Linked DNA regions of Homo sapiens: regions 1 and 3 are each linked to region 2. The links come from fine-mapping of genetic effects on gene expression. A gene starts in region 2. Each other region holds a variant in brackets. All regions are shown on one strand. Distances are between the middles of the regions.

The links. PIP is the estimated chance that this variant, and not a neighbour inherited with it, causes the effect. A credible set is the group of variants that fine-mapping cannot tell apart.
Region 1: its variant is the best candidate, but not a certain one, in a credible set for the expression of PDCD4 in CD4 T cells (Kasela 2017, PIP 0.82).
Region 3: its variant is the best candidate, but not a certain one, in a credible set for the expression of PDCD4 in CD4 T cells (Kasela 2017, PIP 0.52).

The regions. Positions count from the first base shown.
Region 1 is chr10:110,945,195-110,953,246 of GRCh38, reverse strand. The region is part of intron 1 of SHOC2 (SHOC2 leucine rich repeat scaffold protein); the gene reads right to left. Among named protein-coding and RNA genes, the nearest start is that of SHOC2, 30 kb to the right of the region's middle. The variant G/TG (reference allele first, on the strand shown) is at 5,481.
Region 2 is chr10:110,866,526-110,877,569 of GRCh38, reverse strand. PDCD4 (programmed cell death 4) reads right to left here and starts at 5,642. Exons shown (of 12, transcript NM_014456.5): 1 at 5,552-5,642; 2 at 1,500-1,604. The coding sequence starts at 1,542. PDCD4-AS1 (PDCD4 antisense RNA 1) reads left to right here and starts at 6,666. Exons shown (of 1, transcript NR_026932.1): 1 at 6,666-8,680. RefSeq lists silencers at 4,890-5,089, 5,300-5,449, 5,480-5,529, 9,782-9,851 and enhancers at 6,534-7,144, 9,972-10,021.
Region 3 is chr10:111,077,421-111,088,464 of GRCh38, reverse strand. ADRA2A (adrenoceptor alpha 2A) reads right to left here. Exons shown (of 1, transcript NM_000681.4): 1 at 7,558-11,044. The coding sequence starts at 10,468. The coding sequence ends at 9,071. Among named protein-coding and RNA genes, the nearest start is that of ADRA2A, 5.9 kb to the right of the region's middle. The variant G/T (reference allele first, on the strand shown) is at 5,138.

The DNA of each region.
Region 1 (8,052 bases), 77 kb before region 2:
TAAAAAGTAAGGAAACAACAGACTCTGGCCAGGCTGTGGAGAAACAGGAACACGTTTAAACTGCTGGTGGGAATGTAAATTAGTTCAACCATTGGGGAAGACAGTGTGGCGATTCCTCAAGGATCTAGAACCAGAAATACCATTTGACCCAGCAATCCCATTACTGGGTATATAGCCAAAGGAGTATAAATCATTCTAATATAAAGACACATGCACACATATGTTTACTGCAGCACTATTTACAATAGCAAAGACATGGAACCAACCCAAATGCCCATCCATCAATGACAAATTGGATAAACAAATGTGGTACATATATACCATGGAATACTATGCAGTCACAAAAAAAGAATGAGCTCATGTCCTTTGCAGGAACATGGATGAAGCTGGAAGCCATCATCTTCAACAAACTAACACAGGCACAAAAAACCAAACATTGCATGTTCTCACTCATAAGTGGGAATTGAACAATGAGAACCCATGGACACGGAGGGGAACAACACACACCAGGGCCTTTTGCGAGGTGCGGGGCAAGGGGAGGGAGGGCATTAAGACAAACACCTAATGCAGCCAGGGCTCAAAACCTAGACGACAGGTTGATCGATGCAGCAAACCATGATGGCACATGTATACCCATGTAACAAACCTTCACATTCTGCACATGTATCCTGGAACTTAAAGTAAACTTAAAAAAAAAAAATCAGTTATTGCTAGGGGTTGGGGGAGTGAGGGATGAATAGGTGGAACACAGGAATTTTCAGGGCAGTAAAGCAATTCCCTATGATACTATAGTGATAGTTATATGTCATTACACATTTGTCAAAATCCATTGAACCTACAACAGTAAAAACCCTAATGTAAACTATGCACTTTCTGTGATAATATGTTAATGCAAGTTCATCAATAATAATGAATGTGCTTACTCTGATGCAAGATGGTGGTGGCAGGGAAGACTTCGCTTGTAGGGTGGAAAAGGGAATATACGGGAACTCTGTACTTCCAACTCAATTTTGCTATGAACCTAAAATTTATCTAAAAGTGAAGACTATATTTTAAAAATTTAACTGGAAAAAATCACTTAAATTACTGCTTTATTAAAAGCTGAAAAAAACAAAACGTAAAAAGGCAAAAAATTAAGGTTAACTAGTGTGAAAGAGGGCAATATTTAAGAGAAACTAGTAGTTTCATTGTCTGTAACAATCTACAGATGACCTCTTAAGTCTGTCCTAAATCAAAAATAAAAACAGCCCTGTGCCTGTAAGTTTTAATCAATTGAAAAGACATTATTAGGCCAGGCGTGGTGGCTCACACCTGTAATCCCAGTAATTTAAGAGCCTGAGGCGGGCGGATCACTTGAGGTCAGGAGTTCAAGACCAGCTTGGCCAACATGGTGAAATCCCACCTCTACCAAAAATACAGAAAAATTGGCCAGACATGGCTATAATCCTAGTTACCTGGGAGGCTGAGGTGGGAGGATCGCTTGAACCTGGGAGGCAGAGGTTGCAGTGGGCCAAGATCAGATCATGTCACCAATATCAGGATTTCCTAGATTTGAAGGCTGAACGTCACATTTTCTGTGTGTATTCTTCCATCAATGAAGACATAGGTTGATTTCATATCTTGGTTATTGTAAACAATGCTGCAATGAACATGGGAACGTAGACATTTCACAATATAATAATTTCATTTCCTCTAGATACGTACCAAGAAGTCAAAGAAATGAGATTGATGGATCATATATGGTAGTTCTCTTTTTAATTTTTTTATGAAACTCCATACTATTTTTCAGTACATGGCTGTACCAATTTACAACAGTGTAAAAGAGTTCTATTCTCTCTATATCCCCACCAACACTTACAGTCTTATTATCGTCTTTTGGATAATAGGTATGAGGTGACATCTAACAGGTGTGAGGTGACATCTCATTGTGGTTTTTATTTGCATTTCCCTGATGATTAATGACGTTGAGCATTTTTTCACATACCTGATGTACACTGTATGTTGTCTTTTGAAGACCATCAATGCAAGTCCTTTGTTCATCTTAAAAACTTGGGTTGTTTTTGTATCATTGAGTTCTTAAATATATTTTGGATATTAAGCCTTTATTAAATGTATGGTTTGCAAATATTTTCTCCTATTCTGTCAATTATTGTTCACTCTGTTGATCATTTCCTTTGCTGTGCCGAAGCTTATTCAGTTGATGCAATACCATTTCTCTATTTTCGCTTTTATTCCTTATGCTTTTGGGGTCATATCCAAAAAATCATTGCCCCAACCAATGTCAAGAAACTTTTCCCTTTGTTTTCTTCTGGTAATTTTACAGTTTTCGCTCTTTAAGTCTTTAATCTATTTTGAGTTGATTTTTGTACATGGTGTAATTATTTTCATGTTTTTATATATAGTACAGGAATGAAATTTTTATGCTCATGCTTCTGCATATGGATATTCAGTTTTTCCAACACCATTTATTGAAGAAACGATCACTTCTCCATTCTGTGTTCTTAACATCTTTGTTAAAGATCAACTGATTGTACACATGGTATAAGCTTTCTGTTCTGTTCTGCTGGTCTTTATCTCTGGTTTTATGCCAGTACCACACTGTTTGGATTACTAGGTTTGTAGTATATTTTGAACAATTATGGAGGCATCGGGTAGTATGATGCTTCCAGAATTGTTCTTGCTATGGCTGCTTGGAGTCTTTTGTGGTTACATACAAATTTTAGGATTGCTTTTCCTATTTCTGTGTAAAATATCATTGGAATTTTGATAGCTGTTGTATCAAATATATAGATTGCTTTGGGTAGTATGGACATTTTAATAATATTAATTCTTCAAATTCAAAAACAGGATATCTTTCCATTTATGTGTCTTCTTCAATTTCTTTCATCAATGTTTTATCGATTTCTGTGTAGATCATTCACCTCCTTTGTTAAATTTATTCCTTTTTATTTTTATGCTACTGTACAGGGGATTGTTTTCTTAACTTCTTATTCATTGTTAGTTTATGGAAACACAACTGGTTTTTGTAAGCTAATTTTATATTTTGCAACTTTACTGAATTCATTTATTAATTCTAACATTTTTGGCGGAGTCCTTAGGGTTTCCTACATATAAGATCATGTTATCTACAGAAAGACAATTTTACTTTTTCCTTATTGATTTCCACATCTTTTATCTCTTTTTCAGGTCTAACTGCTTTGATTCAGATGTACAGTACTTTATAAACTAGAAGTGATGAGAGAAGAAATCCTTGTCTTCTTCCTGATCTTAAGAGGACAAGCTTCCAGCTACCTGAGGGCTTATATAATCTTTATGGTGTTGAGATACGTACCTTCTATCCCTAATTTGTTGAGTTTTTATCACAAAGTGATAATCTTGTCAAATGTTTTTTCTGTATCTATTGAGAGATCACACAATTTCTGTCCTTCATTCTGTTAATGTGTTGTATCATTTATTGGTTCTTGCATATGCTGAACCATCCTTGCATCCCTGGGATAAATCCCACTTGCTCACTGTGTGTGAACCTTTTAATGTGTTGCTGAATTCAGTTTAGTAGTATTTTGTTGAGGATTTCTGCGTCTACGTTAATCAGAGATACTGACCTGTATTTTTTTTTTCTTTTAGTGTCCTTGTTTGGCTTTGGTATCACAGCAACACCAGACTTGTAAAATGAGTTTGGAAGTATTCCCTCCTCTAAGGTTTTGGAAGAGTTTTAGGACTTGTGCTATGTCTTCTTTAAAGGTTTGTTGGAATTCACCAGTGGAGCCTTCAGGTCCAAAGCTTTTCTTTTTTGGGAGGTTCTTGATTACTGATTCAGTCTCCTTACAGTCACTGGGTGTGATTGGATTTTCTCTTTCTTCATGATTGGTAGACGCTATGCTTCTAGAAAAAAATTTCTATTTCTTCTAGGCTATCCATCTGTTTGTGTATAGTTATTCATTGTAGTCTCTTATTATCTCATTTGTATTTCTGTTGTATCAGCTGTAATGGCTTCTCTTTCATTTGTAATTTTAATTGAGTCCTTTTTTTGCATAGTCTAGCTAAAGATTTGTCAGTTCAGTTTCTTTTCACAAAACCAACTCTTAGTTTCATTATCTCTTCTACAGTTGTTCTAGTCCCTATTTCATTTATTTCTGCTCTGATCTTTATTATTCCTTTCCTTCTAACAACTTTATGTCTGGTTTGGATTCTAGTACAAGGTTTCCAATCTTTTGGCTTCTTTGGGCCACAATGGAAGAAGGATTGTCTTGGGCCACAAGTAATTTACACTAACACTAACGCCAGCTGATGAGCTGGGAAAAAAAAAATGCAAAAAATCTCTCATAATGTTTTAAGAAACTTAGAAAGTTTACAAGTCTGTATTGGGTCACATTCAAAGCCATCCTGGGCTGCATGTGGCCCACAGGTTGGACAAGCTTTTTCTAGTCCTTTGAGATACAAAGTAAGGTTGTTCATTTGATTATCTTCTTTTTTCCTTAATGTAAGCATTTATCACCATAAAATTCCCTCTTAAAACTGCTTTTGCTGCTTCACGTAAGTTTTGCTATGTTGTGTTTCCACTGTCTTTTGTCTCGAGACACCTTTTCAAATGTCCCTTTTTTCTTTGATCCACTGGTTGTTCAGGAATGTGTTAATTTCCACATATTTGTAAATTTTCCAGTTTTCCTCCTGGTGTTATTGATTTCTAGTTTCATACTCTTATGCTTACAAAAAATACTTGATACAATTTCAATCTTCTCAAATTTCTTAACACTTGTTTTATGACCTAATGTGTCTTAAAGAATGTTCAATGTGCACTTAAAAAGAGTGTATATTCTGCTACTGTTCAATGGAATGCTCTGTATATGCCTGTTACGTCCATTTGGCCTAAAATGTTGTTCAAGTCTGTTATTTCTTTATTGATTTTCTGTCTGGCTAATCTATCTATTGCTAAAGCAGAGGTACAAAAGTCCCTATTATTATATTACTATCTATTGTTCCTATCATTTCTGTTAAGATTTTAGAATCTTGGCTTTCTCATTATAAAAAATATTTTGGTGCTCTGATGTTGAGTGTATATATATTTACAACTATTATATCTTCTGGATGAACTGCCTTCTTTATCATTGTATAATGACTTTGTCTCTTATGACAGTTTTTGACTTGAAGTCTATTTTATCTTACATAAATATAGCCACCCCATTCTCTTCTGGTTACCATTTGCGTGAAATATCTTTTTCCATTTCTTCATTTTCAGCCTATGTGTGTCCTTAATGCTAAAATGAATCTCTTTTAGGCATAATACTGTAGGATCTTTTGAAAAATATATTTTAAAAAACTCTGCCTTTTGATTAGAGAACTTAATCCATTTACATTAAAAGTAATTGTGGATAAAGTCTTAACATTGTCATTTTGTTGTTTTCTGACTATCTTGTAGCTCCTCTATTTCTTTCATCTTCTCTTAATGTTTTCCTTTGCGATTTGATTTTTTTTTTTTTTTT[G/TG]GTACTTATTTGCTTTCTCTTTATCTTTTGTGTATTTACAGGGGTTTTTCTCCACGAAATGTATATAAGACATCTTGTAGTTATAATAGTCTGTTGTTAAGCTGATAAAAATTTAATTTCAATCACATACAAAAACTCTTAACTTCTCCACACCCTCTCCAAGTTTACATTATTGAGGACACAACTTATATCTTTTTAGATTATATATTTATCAACAAATTATCATAGCTAAAGCTTTATTTTGTTCCTTTGATGGTGTCACGTTTCCCTGATCATTTGAGATCCTTATGGACTTGCACTGGTGTCTGCATATTTGAAGAAGTAGTCACCTCTCCAGTCTTTACAGAGGAGCTTTAACATAGGAAGCCCTTTACCAGTCAGCCTGTCCAGAGATTCCGGACAGCATGGCTGGCATAGTCCACGAGCAGGCTTGCTGCCTGACTTCTCCAGCAGGCTAGCCTCAGTTACTGGATCCGCAAGGATGGGTCTGGAGACTGGTTCTGTGGGATCTGGCCTGGTGCCTGGGTCCATGGGTGCCAGCCTGGCACTGGGGTTCACTGAGGTGGTTCTAGTGCTGGGGTTCACAGTAAAGTTAGGGGCTCACTTGACTCTCCTTCCTCCACTTGGAGGGCATCTATCTCCATACTGTGCTGCACAGGCTTGGGAAGGGGTGAAACAATTAATGTGCAACTGTAGTTCCTATCCTCTTCAATGCATCATTTGTTGTATCTATGCTACACCCGGGTGCTACAATCTATCATTTGGAATCCTTAGCTCTTGTGAAGGTATTTTTGTCTATGAGTGGTTATTCGAAATGCTTCTGTGAAGAAACAAATGCTGAAAACTACTATTCTGACATTTTACTAACATCACTCTTCCTATTTAACTTTTAAATATGATGAAGTCACTCCCTTGCTTAAAAAATCTGATGCCATCCCATCTTTCAAAATAAAAGGCAAGCCCTTACCTCCAACCTCCAAGACTCCACATGATCTAGCCCCTACACTTGTCTAGCTTTTCTCCAACTCTCCCCGCTAGGTACTTGCATTCCATTCATATTAATCTTGCTTTTCTTTGAATGCAGATCTACATGCTCACACATGAAGTCTTTGTTCTAGCTATTCCATCTGCATAGATACAGCCCTTTCTCTCAAATATCCACATTGTTTGTTCCCTGCTCAAATATCTCATTCTTGATCTACATATAAAAGAGAAATGTCTTCCTATTCTTTTTACCCTGCTTTATTTTTCTTCACAACATTTACTACCTCATAAAATATATTTACTTATTTATTTTGTCTATCATCTCCCTCTCCTCTATGAATGTGAAAACTGTGAAAGCAGGGGCTTCTGACTATTTGGTTTGCAGCTGTATATTCAGAGCCTAGAACCTGGCCAATACTAGATGCCCAAGAAATGGTTACTACATGAATAAAACAACAAATTAATGTATCTAGACATAATTTTTTAGAATAAATTTCTTCTTTAAGAAATATAAATGATCAGCTTCAAAATATGTTATCTCAGTAAAACTAAAATGAAAAATAAAGAAGGCATGGTATAGAATTGTCATTCCCATACCCATCAGAAGTTACCACTACAATAATAAGATATCAAGGATTTCACTGAGTGATATCATGATTATACTATTCAAACTGAAGGGATTTTTATTTGATTAAAAAAATCCTACTCAGGGCCTGAGTAGGATGAAAAGGACAATCCCACAAAGATGCAGTTCTGTGTAGGGTATCAGTTAGAACAGGAAGAGATGAACACTGACATATGATGGTAACCCACAAGATGTTTAAGAGGCCAATTGGGATAGGGTGGGTATGCTCATAGGAAGATAGCTCAACACAGAGAATCAGAACCTGATTGGGGGTGAGAAGAACATCCACAGGTAGTGATGAACCAGGGTGTGATACTGGAGTCTATGAGAGTGAGGAAGATTTCTACATAATAGGCTTGATTGATGGTTAAGGAGGAGGCTGCGCAACATGAACAGTTAAGATTTCAAGCAAGGTGAAAAGGTATTCACACACAGGGTAAGCCTAGCATGGAGAGTCAGAGTCTGAGTGGGGTTGGGGTGGAGATAGGGAGAGTCAAACATGGAGGTCTGTCAGTGTGGGATGGCAAAGCCCAAGTGGAGGCGACATCACAGAAAACAGCAGAGTAAGCATCTCTAAAAACTGTCTCTTCCACAAAAGCACAAAGAAAACTGGAAAATAGAATCAACTTTATCAGAACTCTAAAAATTAATAAAAAGCTTGCATCCAAGTTGCATTTATTTTTAAAAAGCTCAATCTCATTAAGAATGATGAGCTTTCTATTTTAACTTGCCCTAGTCCCATCCCTTGCTCTCCAGATCCACAGTAGTCTTGAAGAAACGACAGCTCACATTCCCAGTGCACTCTAGAAGCTACGTTAAAAAGCAGCAAGAGTTGTAGCTCATTCAAAGCTTCATTCTCCCCAAATTATTGCTTGAGCAGTCTTGTTTCCAGGAAGACCCTATTTGCAATGCTGACCGTATGTGACCTGACTCAGAGCTTGCACAATGCAAAACGCCTTTTCC
Region 2 (11,044 bases):
AAGCCATATAAGAAATTTTAAATTTTCCAGTAGCCACATTAAAAAGTAAAAACAGGTGAAATTAATTTAAATATATTTTATTTAATCTAATATAACCATATCATCTCAACATGCAAGCAATATAACAAATTATTGAGATAGTTGACCTTCATCTCAACTCAGAGTAGCCACATTTCAAGTACTCAACAAACACATGTGGCTAAGCACAGTGGTGCACACGCCTGTAATCCAGCTACTGAGGAGGCTGAAGAGGGAGGATCACTTGAGCCCAGGAGTAATAACCACATGTAGCTAGTGGTCACCATACTGGACAGTGCAGAAAAGAAGCAATTACCTATATGTAAAATATATTCTAAACTGTATTACCATCCCCATCTCAATTAAGTAGGTACATATTATCCATTTATAACCCTAAAGCATACTCATACAGCTATTGTATACAGCAGCACAGAAATGATCATTAATTACATAAATTTTTTTCAATTTTTTACCATACTTTAAAAAGATCTGTAAATAAACAATGGTAAAGAAGCTTCAAATTCAACATGTTTGTTCAGATCAAAGAAAACTATGTACATTGTAAACAATAGTGAGTTAAGTCACTGAGGAAAGAAAGATGTAGTATTTAGTTACGAAATACACTTAAAATGACAGAAAATAGCTTTCAATATTAATAAAATTATAAGACAAAGAATTATCCAAAGTATACCAATATGAACTGTTCTCACTATTCAGATATTACACAATTCTAATTAACTTTTTGGGAGATTATTTTTAAAACTATAAATACATTTTAAATTATCTTGAGTTACTCACATTTGGTCATCTATTCCACAAAACTGTTCATTTTTATGATAATAACATGCTATTGAAGCACCATGGAGAATTAGGGAAAATACCCTAGGTAATTTAGAATATAAAAATTATTTGTTAGGAAAGATACCAAAGATACCAGTAAGTTTATATTACAGAAATCACTAACTAGCCCATGTGAAAATAAGCAGGCTCACTATTCTTCTCTATTCTGTACTATATAACAGAGAATAGGAATATGTGGAATGTGAAAGGATAGGCAGAAAAATAGGACATGTAATGAATTTCCATGAAAATAAAAATCACAAACTTGACTTTAAAAATAATATAGCCTGTTTTCTTACAGCATGAATAAAAGAGTATTTAAAGATAGTTTTTCTATCATGTTTTTATAAAATATGGAATGGTCTGAAGCTTCCTCACAACATAGTCAAGCTTCAAGATATTTCAGCCTAGGCAACATAGTGAAATCCTATCTCTACAAAAAATAAAAAATTAGCCTGGTGTGGTGGCACACACCTGTTGTCCCAGCTGCTGAGGAGGCTGAGATAGGGGAGGATCTCTTAAGCCCAGGAAAGTCAAAACTGCAGTGAGCCATGATCACACCACTGCACTCCAGCCTGGGTGACAGAGCAAGATCCTGTCTCAAAACGAAGAAAAAAAGAAAAAAGGATATCCTTACTTACCTGCAGGGTTTACATTCAGTATCTGCTCATTTTCTACATCCATTTTCCCTTAATTTCGCTTGCACTGATTAAACAAATTACCTAATGGAAATCTTCCTTCAGAATCTGTTTTTTTAAAAGAAAAAAAGAAAGCTTCAAGATCTTTTAAACTGATGTAATTAAGCTGAATTAAACTTACTTAAGCACACTGTAAAAACAAACGACAACAACAAAAAACACACAATTCCATTAAATAAAACAGTTCACTTTACTTTCAAAGACAACTTACCCTAATTAACATTTGGTTCCAATCTTTTTGATAAATTTATCAAAGTCAAAAAAAAAAATCCCAGATTTCAGCATGTGCCAAAGCACCCCTTTAATTGGAATTAAAAGATATGTTTGTGATACATGTTTACGTCAAGTTAAAGAAATACACACATCCAAATCTTTTAGGAATACCAAGCCTCAAAATTAATCTGATATACATACATAGGAATATAAATACTGGATAGTTCCCTACCAATGAATTATGAGAACTACTCCAAAATAAAAACAACACAGTTTTAGTTAATAAAGAATATCACATGACTGTGTTATTTTTCACATTACGGCATATCTGAAAGGCAGATATATCTGCCACTCATTACCTAGGTCTCTATAATTACTAGAATAAGACTTTGGGAGAAACTTTTAAAATCAGCTTTTTTGATAATATTATTTATATGAGAAATCCTTTTTTGATAATATTATTTATATGAGAAATCCATTTTTTAAAAATCTGATCATTTCAGAAAGGAGTAAGTACAACGACATAAGCATTTCAGTATTTTAGGCCTCAGTTTCAAAATGGCTTAAAAATTATTAATACTGGAAGGTTTGATGAAATCAGTTACCTTTTAGACAATTAACTTAGTGATACAGATCCAATAATGTTATATGAAAGAAATATCAAAATAGTTTTCAAAAAATATATTACCAGAAAGTGCAACCAAATTAAGATTTCAGAATCTCTCTAGAAGTATTTTTTAAATAGTGGTTTAGAGTACTTAAGTGTATGTTTAAGTCACATAGGTTGGATATAAGTCCTTCTGGTCATTTACAATCAGGTTGCTAGCAGTGTGCTCTTCAGAGATATAAAATGCACAAATTAGTGAAAATGCCTAATAAATTAATTACAGAAAAGCACATTTTTTCCTATATAACTTAACCTACTGTTAGATGTCATTTTAGGATAACAATGATATATACAGAGCCTCCTGGGACTCAAAGGTGAAACTGACTTTTAAATTCCTCATTATGTACTACTATTTGCTAACATAAGTTTATAGCCCTTTTCTTCAGAAAACGGTATTATTTTGTGAAACAAAAACAAATGGACCTTATGTTAAAATTATAGGCTTCTTACTATGGTATAATCCTCAGACTAATATGCTATCATATTGCTTGGGAACTTAAGAAAATGGTGAGATCATTCTCTAATTCTGTTAAGAATAAATTAATATATGTGAATCTTTATAATCACTTTTCACTATAACTCCCGCCAACTTTAGATATGAAAAAAAAATCTTAAAAATATGTAGAGATTCATATAAATATATGAACAAAAATGGTTTGCAAATCTAAACACTCAGCATCCTTCATGGCTGAAAAGGCTACATTCTGTTTTAATTCCATGCATGAAATACATATAGGAAAGGAATAATGTCATATGATACGTGTTTCAGTTTTTTAGAGTTCCATTACAAAGTCTTTTTCATTCTTGATGAAAGTATAACTTTTGAGAGAATACTTTCTGCAGAACCTAATAAGCGAAATGATTATAATTGATGTTCATAAAGCCCTTTACAATTCAAAAAGAATTGTACATGTATTATTTAATGTACCTTACAGAAAAACCTTCGGGTAGGTATTCCACCTTACACACAACTAAACAGATTCAGAGAGGGTAGGTGATATGTCCAAGGACAGACAGCTGCTTAGTGGAACAGCCAGGATGAGAATCCAGACCTTCCAAATCCAGTACTGTTTGCACAAGTTCAATCCAAAATTTTAATATCCCACAGGAAGATTCTTTTCAAGGGTTAACAGAAGCTTCTTAAAACAGACTTCTGCTGTTCAAACTTTTAAATGCTGTTTTCCAAACACTAAAAATAATTATTTTAAACTATTATACAGAAGGCATTCCGTCAGACAAAACTGTCAGGAAATGACTATCATCTCTTTTATTAAGATAAAAACAAAGTTATCTTAATAAAAAAAATAGTCCTGTGTCTTTAGGCAATGATAACCCGATCAGGAACTCAAGTCATATTTGACAGCAACAAACACGTTTTAAGAGTTTAGATAAGACATGTTCCACGTTTTTACGCTCTTTAAAGTAGTAGGATTTTTTCCAATTTATTTAACAACCCTTAATTGGCCCAAACAAGAAAATATAAAGCAAAAAATCCAAACGCTATTTCCTTCATACTAACCTACAAAAATGAATTTTCGATGAGAAAACTATACATACAAGTTAGAAGAAAATGAAGGCTGACATTAAACACTGTTCTTTTCTCCAGTGTGTTACACGAAATATACAATCAGAAGTATTCAACTGCCAAGACATTCCCTAAGAGACAGACCCTCCACTCCCCCACGAAATATATACATATGTATTTCCTGAAATATACCTCATAAATTGCTCTGGCATTTTGGGGAGTCAAGCTTTGGCCATTTATTAACTAGGATTACTTGTATTCATTCTTCGGCTACGAACGGCTAATTAGCAGCTTAAAACCAGCTAAAAGCATTCTACTACAGTAATGCAAAAGCAAGCACTACAGATAATATTCAAGCGGCATTTATTTTTGCAGTCCTAATATTTTTTCCTTTCACATTAGTACCACAGAAAAAGCCAGTCAATTATAATTCAAATACACTTACTGAGATATTAACGTATTCAATAAGCCTATAATGAAGGAATATTAAGGGCATAAATACCAGTAACTCCTTGCTTAAAAAGCACTTGGTGGTTTCCCAAAAAAGTCACGTTAAGAATATCAAGATTGTAACAATTAAAGTAAAAATACAAGTTAAAAACAGGGGAAACCCTTTTTTCCCCGACACCTAATCGCATTTCTGATCGTTTTCATCATTTGTAGACACTACACAGTTGCTGGCTACGTAGCGAGTTCTCACAAGGGGGAGGGGGGCGAAATTGACGTCTGCAGACAGTTTTGAAGCTCTTGCAAAACCCCATGTACGTTACAGCATCAAACTGACAAATGGAGAAGATGGCATGCGTTTCACAGAAAGGGGGCTCCCTTCCCGGCTTTGTTTTCTCTGGGAGATTTTATTTTACCTAAACTAAAAAAAAGAGACCCTTTGCCGGAAGACGGGCGCGACGAAGTTCGCGCAGGGATGGGGCGGCGGGCACGTGTTCGCCTCCCAGCGCCCCCGGCGAGGATAGCGCGCGGCCCCTCCCCACAGCGGCCGGGCCTGTTCTCCCGCAGCGGGCTCAGGCTAGGACCCCCGAAGTCCCAGCCCGGGTCGGCCCCCGGAAGGGGCTGGGCCGGGGCCGAGGCCGGGGCTCCGGGTTCACGAAGGACAGGGGGCCGCATCTTCAGAGGATTCCCAGGGAGGGCAGGGGGCGGGGAGGGCGCGAATCTTCCTCACAGGATTTCAGTCCAGCCGGAAACACGCCTTCCAATCCCGGCCCCCGAATTCAACCTCCGCCAGAGGGGGAGGAGGGCTGAGGGGGACCTTCAAGGGCGAGCGCCTCGCGCGCCCCTCTCAGTGGGGAGATGGCTCCGGGAGGGGGCGGGCCCGCGCCGACACGCTCCAGGCTGGGCTCAGAAAGAGGGAACCAGGCCGGATGCCCGCAGTCCGGGGCGTTGGGGAGGGCGCGGCTGGACCTGCGGGGCTACAAGAAGGCAGCCGGACCCCCGCACCGCAGGCCCGGACCTGACAGGACCGCGACCCCCACGCCTCCGCCCCCGCCCCCTCCCATCTTGCGGCTGCCTCCGAGGAGGGATGGGGGAGAGGGCGCAGTCTTCCCGAGCGTGTGAGCCGCGCCTACTGGTACTGACCCCTCGGGCCCCCGCCGCTGCTCGCCCAGGTTCCTGGTCAGCCGGCCCCGACCCCGCTCTTCTGTCTCTGCCGCCGCCTCGGAGAGTCTCTGGCCCTTCTCGCTCTGTTTGTTTTTGTTTTCTTCTACCCAGTAACACGGGGGCGAGAGGGCGGCGCTTATTGGCCGAGGCCGGGTGGTCGGCTGGCCAATCGTGGCGGCGGAGCCGGAGCTGAGGAGGAAAAGGGAGAGGAGTGAAACGTGGAAAGTTGGGGAGGGGCGCGGGAGGGCGCATGCGCATGTGGCTCCTGGGACTGGCTGGAGCGGGAGTTGAGCGGGAAGTCGGGGTGGGGGTATGTTGGGAGGCGTGGCGGGATGGGAGCGTTGGGAAAAGGGCAGTGCTGGGGGATGGGGACGAGGATGAAGCTTCCTCGACCCAGCTCACCCATTCTCCTCACAGGGCGTTCTGCAAACTCGGCTGAAGCAAAGGTTTTGAGCTTCCTGATGGTCCCTGCCTCCATTTCTAGAAACTGCTTAGGCGAACACTCCAAGTGATCAGCCTGTCCGATTCCTCCTCCCTCTGGCCGCTGCTTTCTCTGTGGCTTCCAGTTTCTGGAGATCCCATGCTAAGAAGTTTCTCTCAGCGAATCCCCTCAAACCTTTGAGATGGAAATAATTCCCATTTCACAGATATAAAGCAGGCTCCAAAACTCTTTGAAGTTCCTTTGCTAATCATGACTAGCCAAGCCTCTGGCGTTCAAACGCACAAATTCCGGCCTCCAGTGCTGGGGTTCTCAGCCATGGCTACAATTTCTGTATTGAAACTTCCACCTCCCCTCGCTGTTCTCTGTGACTTTTCCTCTTGGCTGCATTGGTTTTGGCTGGTACTATCCTTACTCTTTCAAGGTCACGGTCCCCTGAGGGTGATAACCAGAACCTTAGGCTTCCTTTGTGTTCCCAGGCGGGGACTTAGCCACTGCCTCTGATCAGATTTTTCAGTTGTCTGATGGGCAGCACCGAATGATTGCTTGTGCTCTCCAGAACCCAACTGCCTCATCCCGCACAGGCCAGCGCTTTCCCTTGGCTGCCCAGTCACCCTGCCTGGGAATCATCTCTAATGCTACTATTTCTCTGCACACACACGCACACACACACACACAAACCTTCACTGGCTTCCCATTGCCTCTCTTGAGTGTCAGCGCCTCGGTCGGTCATTCAAGGCTCCGTGATGTGACTTCAAGACTTTCAGGCTGTGTCTCCACACATCTCCCCATATGCTTCCTCACCCCCTGGTAGTTCTTTATATATCACCTTGAAATGTCTCTCTTCTCATCTCCTATCTCCGCCTGATGCAATCCTTCTGTGCCTCATGGCCCTTCCTGGTAGTTTTTTATTTTGTTGTTGTTGTTGTTTTATTTAATTGAGGCAGGGGCTTGCCCTTTAGCCCAGGAGAATGCAGTGGCATGATCACAGCTCACTGCTGCCTCGACCTCCGTCAGCCTCCCTAGCTCAACGATCCTCTCACCTCAGCCTCCTGAGTAACTGGGACTACAGGCACAGCTCACTATGCCCAGCTAATTTTTGTATTTTCTGTACACACAGGGTTTCATCATGTTGTCCAGGCTGGTCTTGAACTCCTGGGCTCAAGCAATCAGCCCACCTCTGCCTCCCAAAGCGTTGAGATTACAAGCGTGAGCCACCATTCCTGGACCCTCGTAGTTTTTCTGGAGCCTCGTGATTTGATATGATCTTCCTGCCGCTGATTCCTCACAGTGTTGGCTTGCCACACCTCCAGGGGCACTGATCACATTCTACCTGGCATTATTTCATCTGAGTCCCTGTCCTAGCCCTTCTGCCCATTAGACTGTAACCTTGTTTAGGGAAAGACCTGTGTCTTACTCATCTGTGATTTTGTTGTTGTTGTTGTTTTGAGACAGGGTCTTGCCCTGTTGCCCAGGCTGGAGAGCAGTGGTGCAATCTTGGCTCACTGCAGCCTCAACCTGTTGGGGTCAAGCCATCCTCCCACCTCAGCTTTCCAAGTAGCTGAGACTACAGGCCTGTGCCACCACACCCAGCTAGTTTTTTGTATTTTTAGTAGAGATGGGGTTTTGCCATGTTGCCCAGGCTTCTCTTGAACTCCTGAGCTCAAGGGATCTGCCTGCCTCGGCCTCCCAAAGTGCTGGGATTACAGGCGTGAGCCACTGTGCCTGACCCACTCACCTGTCATTGTAGTACTTAAGATGCCTTGTTCATTTATTGTGCCTGTGCAATAAATACACCTTGATTTGAGTTTACAAAGATTCTCAGCAGTTGGTGGTCATCCTCATCTCCTGGGCGGGGGCCTCCTGGTGTGGCCAGTATCTGAATTAGTCTCATAACTCATGTTCACTTTTTAAAATCGGAGCTTCCCAGACCTCAGTTTTGTTTTGTTATTTTCCATTATCTGCAGCTGTCTCCTTTCCCCTCTCTCACCTATACTCTACTGATCAGTGACTGCTGGCTCCTTTGTTACCCATCCTTCTCTTTCTCCACATTTTTTCTCTTCTCATCCCTTTCAGTTCTGGACTGTTTCCTTCTTCCTCCCTGTCTTTCATTTAGTCATTCATTGAATGTACTTACTAAGCACATATAGCATAATCAGGCTGTGTTGGGTAGGCATCCCGAGTTCTATGAGATAAAGAAAGAATGGGATATGATTACCAATTTTAAGAAGCATCTAAAACAACCTGTTATGTTTTAGCAAATTGCCCCCAAAGGACCCATTAGGGAGGAAAACGTTCATGTCCTTTTTGCGTATCATCTCAAGCAGTACCCATGATGGCTGGGATCCCAGAACCCACCTTTGAGAATGCTGCCGTATTTGCGTGTGGTTGACAAGGTTGGGCCAGACACTCAGGAAATAGGGTTGTCGTCCTACCTCCCCCACTAACTTCCTGTAAGAACTTCAGCCCCTCTCAGGACCTTTTTCTTTACCAATAAAATTCAGAAATTGGGCTCAATCAGTAATTCCCAAGTTATTTTCCAAAGAACATGAATTTTGTGGAACTTTAATAGATATCATGCAAAAAAAAATGTGGGAGGGATTGTTCCATGGTCAAATGGTCTTGGAAATAACTCGTTTAAACAAAAATAAAACTGTTTCTTTACCCACAACTCTTCTCAGTGGTTTTTTGTTTGTTTGTTTGTTTTTTGAGATGAAGTTTTGCTCTTGTCGCCCAGTTTGGAGTGTAATGGCACTATTTTGACTCACTGCAACCTGTGCCTCCTGGATTCAAGTGATTCTCCTGCCTCAGCCTCCCCAGTAACTGGGATTATAGGCGCCTGCCACCACGCCTGGCTAATATTTATATTTGTAGTAGAGTTGAGGTTTCACCATGTTGGCCAGGCTGGTCTCGAACCCCTGATCTCAAGTGATCTGCCCTCCTCGGCCTCCCAAAGTGCTGGGGTTACAGGCATGAGCCACCGTGCCCAGCCTTCTCAGTGTTTTTAATAAGCTATGTGCCTTTAGTGTCTTGGGAGACCAAGGTAGGAAGATTAGTAATGTTTCCTACCTTGTTTAAACACAGAACCTTTTTTTCTCAAGATACCCCAGAAGCAGTGTTATTTAGAAACCAACTTGGGAAATATAGATGACAGCCACTGTCACCAACATTCCTTCCAGCTGTGTTGAACACTTAGTCACCTGTGCCTTTGCAGCTGAACATTTAACAAAAAAAATTTTTTTAAGAATAAGCTGAAAATGGAGAAGTATCCAAGTGCCAAGAATTTTTGCCTACCAAATCAATCCACAAATATTTTAGTGTGTGCCTGTTCTATGAAAAGCACAGTTGATTCAGCTGTGTTCTTGGTAAAAGGCATTATACTACTTTAGGGTAGGTAATATCTGAAGCCTAGGGCTGCCCGGGCTTCTGGGCCACAATGTATGTTTTCATTTCACGTTGTAATTGTCACAAACTAGGTTTCTGTTACCTGAATCCCTGTGCCTATGGGCTTATGTTAATTTAGCTATTAGATGACAGAAAAGGAGAGAGGCCTTCCCCTTAACTCACTCTATACAGAATAATGGAATTGCAACTTCCATTTCCCTTAAGAAAGATTCATTCCAAGAGCTTAGGAGAGGAAGGGAGATCACAGTTGCCCAGAACAAGACAGCTGCTCAGAGGTGGCAACAGAAACTCTGTGCTTTGTGAGTAGATAAACGTTACATACTTCATCTTCCCCGTACTCCTCAGGCTTAAGCAGTATTGAGATACTTGGAGGGGCGCAAAGAGTGTTTGGTTTTGTCAGGGGAGAGGGTGGGAGATAGTTCCTATTTTTCGCCTCTTAAGACAAGGTAGTGACCCTGTCCCTAACTAGCTGTGTTGCTTTGGGTGTTTCACTTCCTCTCCCTGAGTGAATTGAATGCTTCAATTTTCTGTGCTGTAAAAGAAGGAGGTGCCCATTGCAGGGAGTCCATAAGCAGCCATTCAGTTCTAACACCCTGGGATGCTGAGCAAGGTACTGAGTTGGTACCATGGGAGTCCTGGGAATGGAGAACAAGAGATAAGAAAGTTTGCTGGCCGGGTGTGGTAGCTCATGCCTGTAATCCCAGCACTTTAGGAGGCCAAGGTGGGCGGATCACTTGAGGCCAGGAGTTTGAGACCAGCCTGACCAACATGGTGAAACCCCATCTCTACTAAAAATACAAAAAAATTAGCTGGGCGTGGTGGTGCATGCCTGTAGTCCCAGCTATTCAGGAGACTGAGGCAGGAGAATCTCTTGAACCTAGGAGGCGAAGGTTGCAGTGAGCTGAGATCCCGCCACTGCACTCCAGCCTGGGTGACAGAGACAGACTCCACCTCAAAACAAACAAACAAAGGAGTTTGCCACTGTTGGCAGGAGAGGATTCCACCGGGTATGGACAGAGGGACTGTCAACCCAGGGGCTTTCTCCTAATGCAAAGCTCAGATAATATCACCTCCCTCCATCCCAAAGGCAAAGTGATGGCTGGTGTGGGTTTAGGAGCACTAATTAATTAATTTGGGTAAAGTACTTGAAAAAGCACAGTTGAAGGCAAAAGATAAGCACCTAGATTTACTATTAATGCCTTTGGAACTCTCCAAGGCCTTTTCATTCTTAGGGTAAAGCCTCATTTGAGAGTTCTGTTTCTTAATAAGAAATGGTCATGCCCCTAAATGAAATTGAGGAGAATTTGTCTTTCTGGGGGCTAAGGGTAGGTCTTAGCCCACTTCCTTCCTAAGAAATTTTAGATGCTGCTGTCATTTGCAGCAACTTCATCTACCTGAACTGACGCCTTGTCTCCTTTTGTCAAACCAAAGCCTGAATTTTGAGAATTTCTCTAAGGCAAAAATTGCACTTTAGCACAAATGGTAAAAGATATAAAACATGTTCTGAAGAAAGAGCTGCATAAAGAATTCTTATAATAATGATGATAGCTGACATTTGTGTTGGCCTAAGATTTACTGAGCACATGTGCATAGACTTTCACCACCTCCCTATGAAGTGGACAAGATTC
Region 3 (11,044 bases), 210 kb before region 2:
GCTACCCACACTATTGGAACTGGGACTTCGGGGAAGGATGCCTGGCAGGCATTGCTGGCAGAGGACCCCTGAAGCCATTGCTAAGCTGGGTCCAGACAGGGAGAGAGCAGAGATAATCAGCTCATTCTCCACTCTCACTCCTGCACCCTGATCTGCTGGTGGCTGCCCTTAGGCAGAACTCAGAGAGCACAGAAGAAAGAGTAAGGGGGCAGCTCACAGGGCTCAGCCTTCCAGGGCCCAGCATGGACAAGGGCAGAGACTATAGCCAAAGGTGCAAGTAGAGAATATCTAATATAGAACCCAAAGCTCCGTCCTCAATGCCTTCACCTGGGCTGCCCTCTCTGGGGGCTCCTGGGAGGGACAGCTCCATTCCAAGTAAGTGTTCAAAATCCCAATGAGAACACTTGGACACAGGAAGGGGAACATGACACACCGGGGCCTGTTGTGGGGTGAGGGGAGGAGGGAGGGATAGCTTTAGGAGATATACCTAATGTAAATGACGAGTTAATGGGTGCAGCACACCAACATGGCACATGTATACATATGTAACAAACCTGCACATTGTGCACATGTACCCTAGAACTTAAAGTACAATTAAAAAATATATTTTTAAAAAATGGAAGGATTAGGTTTCAGGCAAACAAGCAAATGTGGAGGGTCATAGGAAAAGGCCCAGCCAAGAGCAGTGAGTTCGCTGCTGAGAGCTCCTCACGGCGGGCAAAGTAGACATCTCTGTCAAGTCACAGGTTCCCTAACTTCTTGGAAATGGATGACTTTTATCTTTGAGGGCCTGAACAGCCCGGAACAGGAGTCAGCAGCACAAGTTCCAGATTTGGGGCTTATCAGATCTTCTGATCCCAAGCAGAATCCATGGGGTTGGCCGGGGTGAGTCCTTGCAAGCTCTCATTCACCCTTCATAATCAACTAATCTTTGGGGACATGACATGCTTGTGCTCCACGGTCTCTCCTCAAATCCTCCCTGGCTGGTTGTGTCGATAAGACAGGTGACATTCGGAAACGAGAAGCGCGTCACACCAGGTCAGGTCCCGTGGCCTGTTAGGTCAACATACCACCATGACTGACTGAATTCACACTCCAGGAGATGTTTGCATTTGACCATGAATAGGAAGCTCTGAGCCAAGGAGCCACTCCTTGAAGATGGAAATTCATGGAGGGTAGGAGCAGTGGTTCACAGTATTTTGCAGGCAGGGGAAGCTCTAAAATCCCAATATCTGGGTCTGCACAGACACTGGCGCTGCCACTGGGTGACCCTGAGGGAGTGAGGGCTCCTGGCCTTCCCTGTGGTGTCAGCAACCTAGTCAGGCTATTAATACTTTGACTGAATTACTGCTCCCAATAACCCTCCCCAATCAGTCTCCACCCAGCAGCCAGAATGATTGTTCTGAACCAAAAAAAATCTGATCAGGTCCCTCCCTTGCCTAAAAAACCTCTCATGGCTCCCCATGCCCTCAAGATAAAATCCTTTACCTGCAGCTGCATGATCTGGACTATCTTCCTCCAGCCTCGCCACTTTCACATCTCATGGTCCTATTAAAGTGGACTTCATAAGTTGCTTGAATATGCAATGTCCCCCACCCCTGGCACTCCCAGTCCCTTCGCTGGACCTATTCCTGCCCATCTCTCATCTCTCATCTGGCTGCACACTTCTCTGGGCTCCCTCCCCAATGCCTTCATCTGGGCTAGCTTTCCCCACCCACCCTGGCACCTGCATCACCAGGCTTACCACTTGCTGGAGCCCACAAAAGAAGAAGCTCCCACCACAAAAGAAGCTCTTCCCCCAACAAAAGAAGAAGTTCTCCCCCTCACAAAATAAAAAGCTCTCCCCCAACAAAAGAAGAAGCTCTTCTCCCACAAAAGAAGCTCTCCCGAAACAAAAGAAGCTCTGCCCCAACACAAGAGGAAGCTGTCCCCCAATAAAAGAAGCTCTGTGAGGTAAAGATCCTAATTAGTTTGTTCCCCACTCTACCCCAACACCTAGTACAAACAGAGGGATGTTAGTGACATTAGCTTGGGGCAGCTCCAAAACATAGTTGAATGAATAAAGGAAGGAAGGACTCTATCATTCATTCATTAAATGTCTCCGTGTCTCCTCTAGGGCTAGGGCATAAAAAATAATCCCTTAAGTGTGTTCAGGGAGCATGCTGAGAACAGAGCAGCAGACTCCCCAGTGTAACCAGGGGACAGGTGAGGACATCAGCCTGGGCCAGTCCTCATCTCCCCTCACCCGGGCCCCAGCCTCAGTGGCCATCACTGCTGGGCAGCTCTGAGCTGTGTCTGAGCCACAGACATGGGATGGGGATTACCCAGAGAACTGTGGCCAAGAGCCAGCCACATGGGTCCCTGGGGCTCTCTCTCTCTCACCTGACCAGGTTGCAGGGAAGACAGGGAAGGGGAGTGTATGTGTGTGTGTGTGTGCGCGCACGCGCACACACACACACATAATAACCCCACACACAGCCTTGCATCTGCATAGTCAGGGAGGAAGGAGGGCCTGTGCTTTTCTTCTACAGATGCCCAGTGACCCAAGCAGCTGGCCCTTGGACAAACTGCAGAAAGCAGGCAGCTGGCCTCCCTCCAGCCTGTTCCCCAAAGTGCTGTTACTCTGCCTTTCTCAGGCTTTGGGTTCTACAGTAGATATTCTCTACTTGCACCTCCAGCTATAGTCTCTGCCCTTGTCCATGCTGGGCCCTGGAAGGTTGAGCCCTGTGAGCCGCCCCCTTACTCTTTCTTCTGTGCTTTCTGAGTTCTGCCTAAGGACAGCCACCAGCAGATCAGGGTGCAGGAGTGAGAGTGGAGAATGTGCCGATTCTCTCTGCAATCTCCCTGTCCAGACCCAGCTTAGCAATGGCTGCAGGGGTCCTCTGCCAGCAATGCCTGCCAGGCATCCTTCCCCGAAGTCCCAGTTCCAGTAGTGTGGGTAGCACCTCGCCCCTTCTGAAGGTGCTGACAGCTTCCCACTGTGCATGTCCCAGGGTACTTCCCTGGCCCTTGTAAGTTTCTCTTAACCCTGCCTGTACCTTGCGAACAGTCCGTTTTCAATTCCCCTTCTTTCATCCCTTCACAGGGTGCCATCTTGTTTTTCTCAGGTATAGATTTTAAAGAGGTCTCAAGTCCTGGGGACAACATTAACAGCCTCTCACTCTTGCCTCCCATCCCCTCCAGAATTCTCTGTAGTCAGATAAACTGCTCCTTCCACAGAGAACAGGACAGCCTGGAGGCTACAGAATATGCCTGCCAGAGAAGCAGTGTTGGCTGCCCCAGAATGCGCACATTGCATCATCCCATCCTCCTCCTAGATTGGCTCCATTGCCCTAGAAGGGGAGTGGCATTCCACCTCGGGGGAGCAGACTCGCAGGCAGGGAGGGGCCAACTGACATGACAACCAGTGAGACGCACCACACTCCCCTTTAATTCCCTTTGTGACCTCTTCCCCTGGTGTGTACACATATACCCTCAACTGCCCAGATGCTTCCACGCCAGGCCCAGGTGAGCAAAGTGGTCCTCAGTGTCCATTGGTGCCTGTTTACACGCACACAGAGATACATACACACTCACACACCCATACACGCTCACATGTTACACACACATACACATAGGCTTAGCCTATGTTTGGAAAACACACCAAACCCTCACTTCTACCCCAGCCTCAATAAGGCCAATGGCCGTTAGCGCCAGATCTCCCTACAGAGAGCACATGGCTTGGCCCTGTCCAGTGTGCCTCACCCATGGCCTGGACAGAAGGAGAGAGCAGACCGGCATTTCATAGAATTATAAAATGGATCATCAGAAAAGCCCCGTGAGATCCCTTAACCCAGTATTACCCAACAAGAGTTCCAGCAAACATGAGTCTCTGAGATGCTCTGTTAAAAAAAAAAAAAAAAATGAAATTCCACAGTCCAGGGAGTTTGGGAAACAGCACACCACGTCATCCTCTCTCAGACAATCGGAAACCACATAGGCACATTAAAGGCTCTGAGAGATCCTGAAGGAGATGTACCTATTAAAGACTGCTTACCCCAGCATTTCACCAGATAGGTGGCAGACAGGGAAGAGATGATACGTAGGTGACAGACAGTAGAGACAGATAGAATGATAATGTCAATAGATAATGTAGATAATATAGATTTTGTAGTTGAATTAACTGCACAGAACACACTGTTAAATAATATTAGACCAACCACTTGCATTTCATAAATGAAGAAGCAGGGACTCAGAGAGGGATTTGCTCAAGACCACATCGCTGGTAAAAGACAAAACTGGGCCTAGAACGCAGGCCTCCTAATCCTCAGTCTAGGCTATTTCCAACAGACCCTGTTCTATTTTTTTTGTATTTAACTAACTCTAAGCCCCAGGATTTCTGGTAATCAAATAGATCAATGCTATTTCCAAAACAAATCTGAGTGTTAGTGATTTTGCTCCGTGACTTGACGTGGCCTCCCTTTCGCGCGTGCCCTCTGCTAAGGAAGGTGCCCCTTCCTGCACCCTGGACTCTCAGGCCCACTGTGAGGGGTGGCAGGGCCCAGGGCAGAGGCCAAAGGGCTAACCTGGCACTGGGCTCTGGACCTCGGTACCTGGATCCTATTATGCTACTGAGTCAAGGACGTAGACTTCCTTACAGGTGTCCCCAAATGGGGACAGGACCTTGTCATGCCATCCCCAAGATGAGGTTGGATGAAAGCTGAGGTCTGACTTGGGCCTAGGTGCCACTGCCCAGGCCTGGCACTGGTCCCACAGGACTCAGCTGCTAGAACCAGAGCTTCCTTCGCGGGCCTAGCCTTCTCAGAGTGTGGACATCCCAACTCCCACATTCTATGCCCTGAGCTCCCAGCCACAGCCACCTCTCCCCCACTGCTCACTCACAGTACAGATGCCTATTACCCTTGGTGGGCACACAGCATCCTCTCCCCCACTGCCACACTGTCACTGTGTGTGGCTAATGAGTGCTTTTCACAGGAACATCCTGTCTCCCCATGTAGCTCCAAAGCTTCCAGAGGGCAGAGGCAGGCCCTAATCTCACTCCACAGGGACAAGTGGTGAGCTTTGCACAGTGCATGCAGGGAAGGAAGAGAACTGCCTTGCAATGCCTAGGATGGTCCTTGACACAAAGCAGGCACAG[G/T]GGATCCTCTGGGGTTGATTAGCAACTCACCACATCCCAAAACAAAATAGAATTCATGTTGGGTGCATATGGCATCAGACGGAGAGTCACATGGAAGAGTGGGCTCAGGGGCTCCTGGAATGCTACATAACCAACAGCTTTTCTAGGTCTCAGGTCCCTTGATCTGCCACTACAAGGTAAGAGTTAAGGATTGATGAGGATGCTTCTGGCTCTAAATCTCTGATTTGATTATACAGTCATAGACAGGGGAAAGCCCAAGCCACGTTTTCATCATTCTCTCCCCCAGCCTTTTAGCATAGAAGAAATTGAACAAAGCCTTGGGGAGGAGGAGACTGTGCTTGTGCCCAGGCTCAAATGAAGGCACTACCCTTCCCCCAACCCAGCACACTTGCACGAGTAAATCTAGCAAGACACACTTCAGACCCAAAAGCCAATGGCTTTCAATATCCCAACCAAAGTTACATAAAACAGGAGATTCGGCCACGAAGACAGACCCTCTTGGCCCAGATACTCGGGAACAGATACTATGCACAGGAAAATGTGGGGTTAGCTCTTTAAGCCAAGATCCCTGTGGGAGCCATTTCACCTTAATTTCCCTCCCCACCCCACACCTTGGCAGACTGTTGCTTGAGCCCTTTGCAAATGAATAAACAGTGATTCCTACTGTGAACTCAGAAACCCACCCATGCCTGGGCTCCAGCCCTCTCTCCCCCACTTTCTGCAACCTCCATCCACCTCTGAGGTTTCTCTGCTTCTGTATCGAGGAGGAGGGAGCATGACACCAGAGGCCCCTCCGTGTAGCACCTCAGCCCATGCTTCTTCCCCCTCGGCGGGTGGAGGCAAGGCAAACACTTCCCTGACAGACAGGACAGAGCTGAGAGTCAACAGCAAGCAGTATTTGTATCTGCTCCTGTGGCTGGGACACACAGCCTGGGTCCTGGGGGCTCGCCAGGCAGGCTGTTGTCTGGCACTGTTTGCCTTTGGGGCAATGGGTACACTGGAGTGAGGAGGGAGAGGAGAGGCTGGGGTGAGGGTGGGATGGGGAGCAGGCCACAGAACCAGACCAGGGAGCCAGCCGTGGCACCACAGGCCAGGAGGCTGTTTTCTGAAGCCTCTGAGCCAGGGTCACTGGAGCCCAGCACCTGGCCATCCTCCTGTGTGCCGGCTCAGAGGATCCAGGTGACGGCAGGAACTCCTCACCCCCTCAGAGCCATGGTCTTCCCTCTCCCAGGCCCCTCAGTGCCCAGATCATTTCTCAGGGCTCTCTACCCTCCCACTGCTGCATACACAGACACCCTCTCCTGCACGAGAGAAGCAAAGGAAGATGAGGAGATGCTGCATGGCCCAGAGGGTGCAGAGGACCTGCTTCTGGGGGGTGTCCAAAGCTGGTCCGCACATATTACAGGTGACTGGGCTCACAAAAGCTGGCCTCCCCCAAAACCACAACCTGACGCTTGTGTTTGCCCCTCAAACCCCCCTCCTCCATAAGTGGCTATTCATCAGTACTGCATCTGACTACACACACAGAACTACTACTACACATCTCTCAGCTGCGCCCTAACCCGGGCAGCCTGGAGCCAGAGCCCTGTCACCTAGCGCCTTGGGATCCTGAGCAAGTCGCTTCCTCTTGCATCTGCATTTGCCTTCTCATCTGTCAGATGAGGGGTTGGACTCCTGGATCACTAAGGCCCCTTCCAGCTTCAAAGTGCCATTACCATAGTATGAGGGCCATAAGCCCTCCTAGACAGCAGAGCAGACTTTGATATTATAGCAATGCAACAAGAAGGATGCATGCCTTCTGGCCAGAGACAACTCAAACCACCAACTAATACATGGTTCTATTCAGGTTTTAGACCATACTTAGTGCATAACCACACTATGGAGTATATGCTACATGTCATATATTATCATGCTTTAAGGTGTGATATACATTTTGGAGTATATTCCACACTTGGTGCATATACCACACTTTGGAGTAGATACACACTTTGAGGTATATAGACACATTAGGTCATGTAGACACTGGGGTATGTATACACCTTGTGTATATTAAATACTGGGATATATCTCACACCTGGTATAGATAGCACACTGCATAGACACCTCTCCACTGGGAGTGTTCTGAGAAGGGCTAATGCCAAAACTCTGGAAAGGTTCTGGGGTTAAGAGTGCAGGCCCTAGAACCAGATAAAGCTGGGTACGATGCATTTCCACCACTTGTTAACCTTGAGCAAGGTTAACAAACTTGCTCTGAGACTCAGTTTCTTCACCTGTAAAATGGGGATAGTAATAAAACTTACCTCATAGCGTTCTTGAGAAAAGTAAACGAGGCAATGCCTACAACCAGTTCACCACAGTGTCTAGCATGTCAGAAACACTTAGTAAATGGTAGCTTTGTTACTGATGGAACGTTTAAAAAATTTTTATAATGTACATTTTTTATTTTTAAAAAATCCATAAAATCAGATGTTCCCAGAGTCTTAAAGCTTTTGAAAACTCAGATAACAGACAAGAGGACCACTCCATTCATATTTATTTCACATTTGATCTGTAAACTTTTTTATTTAAAAAAAAATCCACTGTCATTAGCAACATGTGCTGACATTAGTTTTTCTTTAGTGAAATAAGAGTGCAGGCCTTAAATTGTCTCTGTCTAAAACATGTAGAAATGCAGATGTAAACACAAAGTCTCTGCCCTCCTCCCCTGACTTTGGCAGTTCATCAATGACATGATCTCAACCAGAAAAGCACGGAGGGGGGAAAGGACAACATTTTGATACCTAACAGCTCTTGGGGAAGAAACTGTACAGTTTGGCAGGCCCATTTGTCTTTTCAAACTGTTTACCTTGGGCAAATTGTATCAGGTTTGCTTCTTCCACATAATTTCCACTCCTTGGAGTCTAAAAACAGCAGCTAAAAGATTTCCCCATAGTCAGCACTTTCGGGGCAGGAGGGGCACACAGACATACAAGATAGAAACATACATATTCTTCTTCAAGCAGTGGCCCTGGAGGGAGAGAGGGAACACTGGAAAGAGAGGTTTTAAAGTGAGTTACTGGGGCAAACAGTGCATCAGAGAATAATGGCTTTATACACAGGGCTGATGTGAGGCAGAAAGGCTCATTTACTTATGTCTTGATCCACCATCATAATATTTACATAGGAAAAGGCAATTATGCTGTTAGGCACAGGAAAAAAATGGACAGAAATCTTTTCCCTGTCAGGAAATCTCAAAGCAGGTCCGTGTCGAAGGGACAGTCACCAGTTGCTGGTGAAAACGACGACATAGAGGGACTTCATAACACCAGAAAGGGCTTGCATTGCAAAGGGGCTTGGCCTGAACCAGACAGCTGTGTCTGCCTGGAAGGCATCTCTCCCAAGGCCAGGATTTCAACATCAAAACCAAGGCCAAGAGATATGGGGGCCCCATGTGTGCTATCAAAAATAGTGTATATTTACAGCGGGGGATGGGGAGGGCAGGCAGGGCTGCCCTTAGCATTTTTCTTTAAAAAGAGAGAGAGAGTTGGGAATGGAAGGGGAATTAGCCAGGGCTAGGTAACCCCCATCCATTAACCTTTTGTGAGCCATGCCCTTGTAGTCCAGTGCTTGCTCTGAAGAGCTGTGAGGGCTGTACCAGGCGAAGAGGGTGAAAATACCTTTAGGAAGCAATAGTGATTAGGGGTGGCCCACTAGGAAGATGGCTCCAGGTCAAGAGTGGCCAAACCAACAACTGGGGATGTGTGGGCCTGGCAGCAAGAAGCTTCCCTTGTAGGAGCAGCAGACGCCCGCCCGCAGGAGGCTGCAGAGCCACCCCAGACGAGGAAACGCAGAGCAGGCAGCGCCCGGGTTTCTGAGTGCCCTGGGGCTAAGCACCCCTCGATGCCCCCCGCTGCCTGCAGTCAGCGTGAGTCTACGCGGGCGCCAGCGGAAACCTCACACGATCCGCTTCCTGTCCCCCCGACAGAGGATCTTCTTGAAGGCGCGGCGGAAATCGTGGTTGAAGATGGTGTAGATGACCGGGTTCAACGAGCTGTTGCAGTAGCCGAACCAGAAGAAGAATTTGAAGAGCGTGCGTGGCACGGAGCACCCGACGGCCGTGAGCGTGTAGGTGAAGAAGAAGGGGAACCAGCACACCACGAACACTCCGATGACCACGGCCAGCACGAACGTGAAGCGCTTCTCGCGGTTCTGCCGCCCGCGCCAGCGCGACGCCTTGGCAGCCCCGACGCGCTCCTCCCCCGGCCCTGCAGCCGGCGTCCCGATCCCCGTCGCCCCCGGCCCGCGCCGCGGCAGGCTGTCGCCCGGCTTCACCTGGCTCGCTCGGGCCTTGCCTTTGCCCCGGGGACCGCGCTCGGGTCTGCGGGGCCCTGGAGGCCGCTCGGCGTGGTCGGAAGACGAGCTCTCCTCCAGGTCCAGCGCGTCGGTGTCGCGCGGCCCGGCCGGCGCGGGCTCGCCAGGGGCGCCGTTGAGCTGGGTGGGCAGCGGTTCGGCCTCTGCGCCCCCCGGGCCCGCGCTGCGCTCGGGGCCCAGACCGTTGGGCCTGCGCTCGGTGCCCCCCGGCGGCGCGGCGACGGCGTCCGGACCCCGGCGGCTGGGTGGCACGCGGGTGCGACGCTTGGCGATCTGGTAGATGCGCACGTAGACCAGGATCATGATGAGGCAGGGAGCGAAGAAGGAGCCGATGCACGACGAGATGACGTACCACTTCTGGTCGTTGATCTCGCAGCGCGGCTCGGCCGGCTGCGGGCCGCCGCCGCCGCCCTTCTTCTCGATGGAGATGAGCGGCGGGAAGGAGATGACGGCCGAGATGACCCACACGGTGATGATGATGGCCTTGATGCGGCGCGGCGTGCGCTTCAGGTTGTACTCGATGGCCTGTGTGATGGACCAGTAGCGGTCCAGGCTGATGGCGCACAGGTGCACGATGGACGACGTGCAGAAGAGCACGTCGAGCGCCAGGTAGATCTCGCACCAAGCCTTGCCGAAGTACCAGTAGCCCATGACCTCGTTGGCCAGCGAGAAAGGGATGACGAGCGTGGCCACCAGGATGTCGGCCGAGGCCAGAGACACCAGGAAGAGGTTTTGGGGCGCCTTGAGCGCGCGGCTCGTGAACACGGCGATGATGACGAGCACGTTGCCGAACACGGTGAGCAGCATGAGCAGGCCGGCCAGGCACACCAGCGTCAGCGTCACCTGCAGGGAGTAAGGGGTGGCCCGGGCGCCGCCCCCCGGCGCCTCGGTCCCGTTCCAGCTCGCGTTGCCCGCGTCCGGCTGCAGGGAGCCCATGGGCGCAAAGCTGCCCTCGGCCAACGGCTGCTCCTGGCGGAACATGAACGCGGGCGCCCGCTGGCCTGGGCCTGCTGCCAGCTGCCTTCCGGCCCGGCGCCCGTGGGTCCTCCTCTTCCTCCGGCGCCCCGCTCGCCTGGCTGCGGCTCACATAGGGAGGGGGCCGCAGGGAGGCCGGGCCCGAACTGGAGGACCGCTAGCGGCCCATGGCCCGGGTCCCGCGAACTGCGCCTGGCTCGCGCTTCAGACGCTCTCGGTGGGCGCCTTCTTGCTCCGAGCTCCTAATACAGCCAAGTTTTATTTCTAAGCGGCGGGAGAGAGTAGGGAGAGCCGATGGGTAAAGAGAGATTTATTCTTCAAGAAGGGAGAACAAAAATCATCGGTGGCCTGATAACTTGGAAGGATGACAGGAAATTAAATATATATATACATATCAATATCTGTATCTTGAATCTTGAGCCTGAGCGAAAGCAAGAGGTCTTACCGTGTGCGGGGCCCGCCCCCACCCCGGGAGGCAGCCGAAGGGTGCTGATGCGAGCTCGGGGGTCCTATGTCTGTCGCCTTACATCCCCGAAGCGATTACCGACTCTCTGGCTTCCCCCAGACGCTGCGGTTCTGGCC